Linked DNA regions of Homo sapiens: region 1 is linked to region 2. Evidence: fine-mapped expression QTL. A gene starts in region 2. The other region holds a variant in brackets. All regions are shown on one strand. Distances are from middle to middle.

The links.
Region 1: its variant is fine-mapped to the expression of DHRS3 in whole blood (TOPMed, PIP 0.97).

Annotation. Positions count from the first base shown.
Region 1 is chr1:12,586,937-12,592,302 of GRCh38, forward strand. The region is part of intron 1 of DHRS3 (dehydrogenase/reductase 3); the gene reads right to left. Among named protein-coding and RNA genes, the nearest start is that of MIR6730, 11 kb to the left of the region's middle. The variant C/A (reference allele first, on the strand shown) is at 3,266.
Region 2 is chr1:12,615,403-12,620,768 of GRCh38, forward strand. It overlaps DHRS3 (dehydrogenase/reductase 3), which reads right to left and starts at 2,808. Exons shown (of 6, transcript NM_004753.7): 1 at 1,752-2,808. The coding sequence starts at 1,946. RefSeq lists enhancers at 2,433-3,064, 3,065-3,696, 3,697-4,328 and a silencer at 4,564-4,815.

The DNA of each region.
Region 1 (5,366 bases), 28 kb before region 2:
GGGAGGAAAAGCTGAGAAAATCATAGCACTGCCTCTGATACACCCTCTTCACTGCCTCTGATACACCCTCTTCACTGCCTCTGATACACCCTCTTCTGCAGGCTTTAAAATGATAAGTGACACGACATGGAAAAATGCTCAGGAGTCTAATGTTCAGACAAAAGGGGTGCAGCACTATTTGAATAAGATAATCTCAACTCTAAACTTTTTTTTTTTTTTTTTTTGAGACAGAGTCTCACTCTGTTGCCCAGGCCGGAGTGCAGTGGCGCAATCATGACTCACTGCAGCCTCCATTTCCTGGGCTCAGGTGATCCTCCCACCTCAGCCTCCCAAGTAGCTGGGACCAGAGGTGCAAGCCACTACTCCTGGCTAATTTTTATATTTTTTGTAGAGATGGGGTTTTGCCATGTTTCCCAGGCTGGTCTCAAGCTCCTGGGGCTCAAGTGATTCTCCCACCTCAGCCTCCCAAAGTGCTGGGATTACAGGCATAAGCCACCAGGTCACTGGAAGTCAACAGGCTACACAGAGATGGGTGTCTCAGGCAGGATCACAGCTGACTGTCGTTTGCTTCTTTATATTTGTATAAGCAAAAAATATCTCTAAAGAACAAGTATTGTTATTTATGATCTTAAAAATAGAAGGTGGGGCTGGGTGTGGTGGCTTAGGAGGCTGAGGTGGGAGGATTGCTTGAGCCCAGGGGACAGAGGCTGCAGTGAGCCAAGATCTCACCACTGCACTCCAGCCTGGATGACAGAGAGAGAGCCGGTCTCAAAAAAACAAAAACCAAAAAACAAAACAAAACAAAACAAAACAAAAAACAACAGAAGGTAGAGTAAAAGCTTCCCCATGGATCACTCTCCAAATAGATTCTTTACACACAGGTAATGTCACTCAGCCCTTTGGGTCCAACCCCTTGTCCCCCAGCCCCCGAGTGGTGCTCTTCGGGGGCCCTCATCCATTGGCAAGTGACTGTCTATTCACATCTCTCTTCCTGTTGTTGAGTGAGTGAGGGAGGGAGCCTGCCGGGGATCCACAGCTCCCAGTTTCCACTCACTCATTACACAGTGCTCTTGGCCCTGCATGTGCTGTCACGGCCATTTGGGGTCTATATCCTGTCTCTTAGAGGACAGGGACTAAATCTCTCAAATTCAGGTTTCTCCTGTGTCCCTACCTGGTGCCCGGCCCGGGCTGTTTTTCTCTGTTTCAAATGCCAGGGCTACTTATGGACTCCTATTCAACCTGCAAAACCCTACTTGAATGCTCCCTCAGTTCTGAAGCCTCCCTGGCTGCTCCTTCCAGCCTCCCCACAACAACAACAGCACCACCACTATATAATGGCTAAATCTGTTGAGCAGTTGCCATGGGCCAGACACTGTGCTGAGTACATGGATATGTTTTCTTCTTTAATCCTCACAACCCCTCGAGGTGGGTATGTTTACCTTCTGCATTTAATAGGTAAGCCGCAGACAGACAGTGACTCACCCAAGGTCATGCAGCTCATAAGAGCAGATCTGCCTGACTCAGGATACCCATTCCTCACTGCTAACACTAGTCTTTTTTCAACCTCCACTAGTGCACAGATGTGAGCATGCTGACTGGTGAACACCCCTGCCTCTCCCATGAGCGTGCAAGGTCCTCCAGGGAATCTTATTCATCTCGTAACCCCAGCATCCAGCATGGGCCAGGCACAAGAGTAAAAGCTCAGCTAACATCATCACAAGACACCAGCCCCAGGAGGATACCGAGTGCCCCTTCTCTACCCAGCCTTGCCTTCCTAGCCCAGAGGGGCTTGCACTAATGCTGGACTTGGCTTTCATTCCTGGAGTTCAGCTGCAGCGCACCCTCCCACCGGCGACATGAGCTGGGTGGTCTCTGGGTGCGTCCCAGGAGGAGCATCTGTTTATAATTGGCAGCCCCTGAAAGATCTGAGACCCTGGGCAGGTCTTTGGCAGGCCAGCTCATGTCCCATGGGCCCCATGTTTTGGAGCTGGATCGGTGCTGACTTGGCTTCTCAGAGGGAAAGAAAATACCCGCCAGAGACCCCAAACCACAGCAGGCTGGGCGGTGGGGTGGGAAGGTCACAGCGTGGAGGGTGCACAGCTCTCTGCTCCTGGCCCCTCCAGTAGGAGGCTGTTAATAAAAATCCATCCCTGTGGTCAGATGAGAATGAGCAGGCAAGCAACATCTAGCTTTTAAGACATTAAGGTTAGAATGGGGTGCTAGATAGCAGAGGGTGAGTGTGAGCGTGGCATAGGTTACTACTAGAATTTCCCCCTTTCACAACCCTGTCTATTTCCAAAAGGAGAGACCCTTTCTCGAGTAGAGCAGCTTAGAACATGGGCTCTGGAGCCAGACTGCCTGGGTTCAATTCTTTAACAGTTATGAATTAACATGATCTTAACCTCTATGAATTAAGGTTTAAAACATCCACTCTTTTTCTTTTCTTTTCTTTTTCTTTTTTTTTTTTTTTGAGATGGAGGCTTGCTCTGTGGGCTAGGCTGGAGTGCAGTGGCGCGATCTCGGCTCACTGCCTCCTCTGCTTCCTGGGTTTGAGCGATTCTCCTGCCTCAGCCTCCCAAGTAGCTGGGATCACAGGTGTGCACCACCACACCCAGCTAATTTTTGTATTTTTAGTTGAGATGGGGTTTCACCATAATTCACCAATATGGTGAATTACAGGTGTGAGCCACCGTGCCCAGCCTAAAACACCCACTTTGAAGAGTAGTTGGGAGGATTAAGAAAGGGCACAATAAATGCCAGCTGTGGGCTGGATATGTTGGCTCACGCCTATATTCCCAGCACTTTGGGAGGCCGAGGTGGGGGAATTACTTGAGGCCAGGAGTTCAAGATCAGCCTGGGCAACATAGCAAGACTCTGTCTCTGTTTTGTAAAAAGCTAGCTGTCATTATTATTATTATTATTATTATTATTAGCACAGCAACAGAAATAGATCCCCCTTTGCAGTAGAAGATCCACATACCCTGTTGGGGAAACAGTTGCCCGGAAGACCCCATCTGGTCTCCACCTCCATCTGACTACCCTAGGCACAGCCTTGACTGGGGCAAAACCACAGAATCTTGCTATTTCTTGATTCCATCCTTCCACCTTACTTAGAAGGCTCTCCTTTTTCTACGTCCCCAAGCCTGAGAAGGTAGAGACCAGCTGTCAAAACTGTCCACCTGCAGAGCAAGCTGCGGGGGGATTTCTTAGGGAGGAGAGGTTTTCAAGCAGAGCCCCAAGGAACTCTGGGGGTTCTGGTGAGGAG[C/A]CTCTGGAGGTGCTGAGGGTGGGGTGGGGAGCAAGCAGATATCATTCCAGGCTTCTCCTCACTCCTGCCCCAGTCACCCAGAGTGGTGACACTTTAGGTTTCTAGAATAGTCATTTCTTTTGCTTTGAGATGATGTTTCACTCTTGTTGCCCAGACTGGAGTGCAGTGGCGTGATCTTGGCTCACTGAAACCTTCACCTCCTGGGTTCCAGCAATTCTCCTGCCTCAGCCTCCCGAGTAGCTGGGATTACAGGCATGCGCCACCACGCCCGGCTAATTTTGTAATTTTAGTAGAGACGGGGTTTCTCCATGTTGGCCAAGCTGGTCTCGAACTCCTGACCTCAGGTGATCCACCTGCCTCGGCCTCCCAAAGTGCTGGGATTACAGGCGTGAGCCACCGTGCCCGACCTAGAATAGTCATTTCTACAAAGACTCTGTCGCTAAAAAAAAAAAATAGTTGGAATGTGACTCTGAATCCGCAGCCTCTTCCTCCCCAGCACAGCCCTGGAAGGAAGCCTGCTTTCTCCGAATGGACTCCAGTGGGATCCCTCTAGCTGTCACCCATTGAGAGTGCTGGCCTGTCACTCGGGCACACCCAACAAGCCTACCAGCCCTTCTGCTTCCAGTGCAGATCCACACTGATCACACTGATCAAAACTGATCCACAATGATCAGGTACCGACTTCCAGCATCTCCTTCCCAGACTTTCTAATCCCTTCCACCTTTTTTTCTGGGAGGCCTGTTTTCCAGACTCTACACAATCCAGTCTGCATGCTGTCAGGTAAAAGGATGGGGACAGAGAGATCGTGCGATTCTGTGGTTTTGTCCCACTCAAGGCTGTTTCTAGGGGAGGAGACAGACATAGAGCTTCGGGTTTTCCAGGCAACCATTACCCCAGCAGGGTTCTGGATCTTCCATCAGCAAGGGGGATCTATATCTGTTGCTGTACTAATAAAAATAGTAACAGCTAGCATTTATTGGTGTAGCCCTAGGTCGTTACAGGTGCCCCACGGCTGACCCCAGGAGGTCAGAGGTGACAGAAGCCACTGGGCCTGTCAGGGACTTCGGCTAGGTCCTTATGTGTCCTTCCTGTTCCTGCACTGCTGGGCTGCTGAAGCCTAGGCAGGTCTCTCCCACGTAGCCCTGCAAAACAGGCTTTCCCTGGCTCCAGGCCCCTGTTTTGGCCTGCCGAGAATGTTTTGGCTACCGCTGGCTCAGCTGTTGGGGAGGATTGTGATGAAGCTCCTCAAATTAGATCAGCCAGTGGTGTCGCCCTCCCACAAGTCCCTGACCGCAACCTGGAGCAGGGCAGAGACTTCCTCCAGGCGGACGTCCAGCCTGGAACTGGCCCGCTTGGGAGGCACAGGAATGACAGTAGCTCTGACATGCACGTGGGGCTCACTAGCTGGCCACACTGCCTCAGCATGGGTGCCGTGGGGCGTCTAGTCCTCTGTCAGCTCAGAAGGGCTCATACCCGAGAAAACTGATACACGAAGGGGCTATGTAATTCCAAGCGGTAAGCGGTAGAGCTGGGACCTCAACTTATGCAATCTGTGCCCTTGGCCACTGACTTTACCTGCGGGAGCAAAATGACCCCACGAAACAACATATTCATTCAGTGCACAGGTACAGTGAGCTGATGCCATGTCCAAGGACTGGACAGAAAGGTGTCCACCTCCCAGGGAATGAGGGAAAGGTGCGGTCATCATTCGGTCTTGATGACCAAGTGGTTATGAAAGGCATGGCAGAGATGTTCCTTGCCCCTCTGCGAGGACACTGGGGCTCTGATGGGGCTCAGGTGGGAGGACAGGTGAGGACAGAAGCTGTTCTGAGCATGGGTCAGCACAGTGCCCAGGGCTGGTGTTTGCTGTGAGGGGGTATGGGGTTTGCCTGGAGCACCCTTGCTCTCCAAGTGGGCGGGGTGGGACTGTGACAAGCACTCACCGCCACCACAGTGAACAATCTGTGGACCTTTACTGCAGGCTGGATCCTGCTCTGGGCTCTTAGACTGAATCCTCTCGGCTGCCCGGATGTGGTACAGTCGGCTGATTAGTGTCCCCTGAGAAGCTGAGTCCAAGTCCTAACCCTTGGTACCTGTGAAT
Region 2 (5,366 bases):
CGTCCAGTCCAAGTTAGGTGGGGTTTGGTTCCCGGTGCGTGAACTTGCAGGCTCCACTCTGTACTATCACACCCACCCCCCAATGCCATACACTTCTTTCAATTTAGGATTGTTTATAGTCAGTCGAGTTTTTCCAGATTGACTAAGAGTTCCTCATCTGCCTACTGTAGTCAGCTACAAGAACAGTAAAAGAGACCCAGGACTTGGGCCAGCTGGAAGACTCAGAAAAAAGTTTCTGTGGGATGCAGACAGCTAAAGAATGACAATCACATGCAATTGTCCCAAACCCCACGTCCGCCCCAAAGGACACCCTCATCTGCCCTTTTCAGTCCCCTTCACAAAGAGCTTCAGGAGCCCTTTTATGGGGCATCGCCTCAAGGAAATGAAACTGCTGAGAACAACTCTGACTTCCCCTTATTCGTTGTGTCCAAGGGTTAAAAACGCTTCCCAACTCCCCCTCCAAATGCAAGGTCAAGCGGCTGTCCAAACCACCCAAGGAGAAGAGGGAGTCCTGGACAGCCAGACCCCTGCTAGCTTGGCCACCACAGGCTCCGGCCAGCCCGGCTAGGGAAGAGTTAATCGGATCGGCTTTGGCTGATAGTTCAGGCTCCAAAGTTCAGTCCCAGTCAGAGCCACCCCGGAGGAATTGTAAATCTCAGGGCAGTATTTAACAAAACAAAAGCAACCTGGAATTACATGCAGGTTTGGTTTTCTACAGTACATATTTACTTAATCCCCAAGGTATGCGGCTCCATGTCAGATCAGCTGGCTTTGCGGCCCTTTCACCCCCCTAGTTCACAACAGTTTAAGTTTCAAACTAATTCCCTGTTTTCGCTCTTCCTCTTCACAGGGCTGGCTGGAGACAGCCTGGCCTGCCTCCCTCTCCTGATGGCTCTGGTCACCGCGTGAGTCAGCCTGGCCTGGGCTGGGAGTTGGGTGACAGCCTGCCCACTCTCCCCACTCTGGCACCAGGTCTCCAAAACCTGGAGCAAGGGGTGCCAGGACCACCAAAAAGTTAAAGGCCGTGTTTGGTGGGCAGGACCCTCCTTGCAGCACCACCTTCCAGCTAAATGGGGAGGGATCCCTGGGGGGTGTACTGGGGGGGAGGGGACAGGGTTGAAGGTGAGAACAAGGGCTCTTTATCAGTAGCTGCTTACCCTGGCCTCCTCTTTCCTGCTTTCCAAACACCTGGGCCTCTCAGTGTCGGTCCGGCCAGACTACTGCATACAAGACCGCTCTTCCCTTTTCAAACCCAAACCAAGTACCCTCTCTCGTGTCTTCAGAGCTGCAGCCGCCCAGGTTGGGGCTGGGTAGCGGGTTGCCAAGGAAAATACGAGGCGCCAGCTAGCAGGCGGCTCCCAGCTCTACCCAGGAGTGCGCACACCCTGCACTCACCAGGGTGGCGGCAAGAAAAAGGGGGGAAGGCGGGGGAGGGGGGCACAACACCTTCCTTTGGGAGGCAGGAATGTGGGAAATGGTGGGTCTCTTAGGTTTCAGGGTGGGGGTGAATAGCCAGTCAGCCAGCCACCGATCCCAAAGGAGCGGATCAACTCTGAACCTGCCAAAAAAGACAGTCCGGTGCCCGGGAAATTTACAAGGTGAAACCGACTAGCTCAGCACTCGTGGGTGGCGCGGAGAAGTGGGGTGGCCGGCGACTCTCAGCTCCCGGGCGCGGGATCCCGCAGCGGCAGCAGGTGGGCTTACCCCCGCCCCTGCGGCCCCCCACTCCCTGGAGTCGCAGTGCCTGGTACCTTTCTGGCGCCGCGCTCCGCGAACTCGCGGGCGAGCTGACGCCCGATGCCTCTCCCGCCGCCGGTGATGAGGACGTTCTCCCGCGACAGGTCCCGCAGCTTGGCGGGCAGCACCAGTCCGACGGCTGCTTTCACCACCAGATAGATCATCTGTAGAGGGAACATCACCAGCGCGCCCAGCCGTTTCCACACCATCCTCCGCGCCGCGGAGCCGGGCAGGGGGCGAAACTCCCCGGGCCGAGCAATACAGGAATTAAAAAACACCCCGAACAATAAATAGTAAACCGAATAAGGAGGAGAGAGGCGTCCCACCTGGCCACTCTTGAAATCACCTCTTCCCAAATGCAAAGCACCGGGTGAGAAAAAGAAAAAAAAAAAAAAAAAAAAGATAAATTCTCCTCTGGGGGAGAAAAAGCGTCTCCTAAGGTTGGGACGGTAAAAGAGGTGGAGGGGGAAGCCGGAGGTGGAAAGTTCTAACAAGAAGTTTCTTGCCCCAGCAGCCGTTTCGGCTGGGGAATTCTCAGGTAATGTTTACAGACTGACAGAGGAGTTTAGGGAGGGGAAGAAAAAAAAAAAAAGGCACCAACCACACGCGCGCACCCTGCCTCGGTCCCGCGGTTTCAAAGTGCAAGATTAAAAAAAAAAAAAAAAAAAAAAAAAAAGCTGATTCCAAATTGTAGCGCCCCCACCCCCACCCCGTCTCCAGAAAAAAAAAAAAAAAAAAAGTGGGGGGAAAAAGTGCTTGGAGCTCCCAATTTCAGCCCGCGAAAGTCTCCCGACTCATTGCTATTCTTGGGCTCAGGAAATTGCTTAAACGCGATCTGATTGCCAGCAACGTGCAGGAGAAGTGGGGGGTCCGGGTGTCAGTTTCTTTACGTGCAGCGCTCGCCCTCGCGCGCGCTCGCTCGCTCCGGCTCCCTCCCTCCCTCTCTGTTCCAGCAGAGGCTGGGAGTTGCCGCTCGATCCAGCTCCCCTTCTCTCCCTTTTTAGCATTTATTGCCTTCTTTTTGTCCTTTCCAACTTGGAGAGGGTCCGGGTGTGGAGCGCGCGTGGATCGGACGCCTTGGTCTGCGCGGCCCTATTCATTCGCTCCCCGGGCAGCCGCGTCGCGGAGAGGGCGGCCCCTTTTTCCCCCATTTTTTCAATACCCCATTAAGTCTGATTGACAGTTAAAGTTGTTGGGAGGCTTCACTACCGTTCCTCTGAGTGGCTGCTGCGGCCTCCCCTCCCCCTGCGCCGTCGCGGGGAGCGCGCATAAGGCGCGCACTCGGGCTCGCCGGGACTCGCGCTCTCCCGGGACTGGCTCCCCTCTCTGCAAGCCGGGACTTGCCGCCGGTGTCCCTGAGGGCTCGCAGCTGTAACTCGAACACGCTGGAACCGACTCCGGCGAGCCGGCTGCCTTCTCGAGACGTTCCTCCTTGCCCGGGCCGCCCGCGGGCCAGGTGATCACCCCGAGTGTGGAGCAGGCCCGGGGGAGCTTGCGTATGCCTTGATCCAACCAGGTCACCCAGGGTTTTATTTCAGGTCATTTGGTCATCCTCGGCCTCCAGGTAGGATCAGGAAGCCACTCCTCACCTTTGCCCGGACCTCTTCTGTGTTCACGTAGAGTGGACTTTTAAAAGCCTGACCCAAGTGCCTCACGATGCTTAGGGGGAAGCCGCTGGGGAGCAGGACTTTGCTTTGAGGGGAGGGAGTAGTCAAGGTAAAGGAACCTCTGCTCCGAGTGCCAATAAAATCCCCACAAGATTAGCTGGGAGCATATTTATTGCTCATCTGAGCTAGAATTACCTTGACTGACACCAATTTCCTTAATAACAAAAGCCTGTAAACAAAACGTCCTATTCGTGCGCCCCTGTGCTGTGCAGCCAGCGTCTCCTGTCCTTGGGTCTCCCTGGACTGCCCTGGCGGGGCACCCACCTTCTAACCTCCTGCCCTTCCCGACCGGAATGTCTCCCCTGCTGGAGGGTGGGACCGAGCTATTTAGAGTTGTCTGTTGCAGGAAGTCTGGGAGGTGAGTCACTAAAAAGCAGCCCCAGTTCAAAGTGCTGATGGGACTTGCCTCCCGCCCCCCTGCACGTTCCCGGGGCCGGAGGAGCGAGAGCGAAGCAGGGAGCTGCCCTGTAATCTGGGGCAGCCGTTTCCAGCCCGCGACTTGTTCAGACGGCGATTCCTGGGCCTCACCCCCAGAGATTCTGATTCAGCAGGGCTGGGTGCGCTGGGATCGGTACTTTCAATGCTCCGCCTGGTGAGAAAGTCACTTCGAAAAACGCTGATCTGCGGGGAGGGGAGGCTGGGATTACCTCGTCACCTGCAAAGACCTAGTTCTGGGGAGAGGTTCTGCAGGGGAGGATCTTCCTTCTGGGTGAAAAGCCACTGGAAGAGCAAAAGGCAGGAGAGGCTTAGGATGAGCAACTGTCCTGCACTGAGGGCCTATATTCTGACACAGTCCTTCCCCTGACCTTGCAATCGGGGGACTGTTATCCCATCGTCCAGGTTACCCAGCCAGGAAGTGCAGGAGGGGGGATCCCAATCCAAACCTCTTCCCACTCTGACCAGACGGGAGGAGAGAAGTGGAGGATGGGGTTCAGCTAAGGGTTGCAGAGCAGAGACCCCCCCACCCCCCTAACGCCCCCAAGAGTCTGACCGAAGGGCGGACCAATGTCTCCATCAGACCCCAGGGCCGGAATCCATTGTGGTGACGGCCTCCTCTCATCTTCGAGGTCTGTAAAAATGGGAAAGCGATTCCAGCCTGGGAGTGACAGGCCTTTCCCACCCAGCAGCGGCTGGTGTCCGCCAGGCCTGCGAAGAAGCCTGGAAAGATCTGAAGACAGAACCAGGCTGCAAAAGCGGGCTTTGCTCATCTGTTGTCCTCGGAGCCGCCTGGTGGCCCAGATAGGATACTGCGCCTCCGAGCTGCCCGGCCTCCAACCCAGCGGCGTTCCTGCTAACTAGCCATGCTTTTCTTCCAGGCATTTCTCTCATGTAAGGTTAACACCCCAAGTCTAAAAGGGCTTGTGAAGATCATAGTCCTCCTCCCCCACCCCAAACACACTTTTATGGCTGGGGAAACTAAAGCCAAAAGATATGAAGCAACTCATATACAGAGATGCATTTTCACCCCGGTCAGATGCCAGACCGGCTGGGTAACCGTTAGGTCCCTCTTACATCTCTCTGGTTGTGTGCCTGGGATGGAGGGCAGACGGTGGGAAGGAGGTCGGGAACCCAAATTGGCCTTTAGTGCCTCAGGGCCTTTACACAGTTTCTGATTGAATTTCCTTAACAGCCCAGGGAGGCTCGTGCCCATTTATTGCAGGAGGAAACAGGCTCAGTAAATCTAAGTAACTTGTGCAATGCCACGCAACCTGCTTCTCAAAAGGTTTGGGATGAAATCAGAGGGAAAAAGAACATGTCAGACATTCCCCAAAGGAACTGACAGTTCCAGAAGCTGGCCTGAGGTGGATGGTGGCCTTTTTTTCTACTTGGTCCATCTTTCAGGATGTGGTTTTTGTGGGACTGGCAGCTCTGCAAGCCACACGTTTCTCCCAGCATCAACTGCTCAGAGAGAAACTTGTCACCTCCTCTGTTGCCCTCCCCCGAGGTCCCTGGGAAGATGGG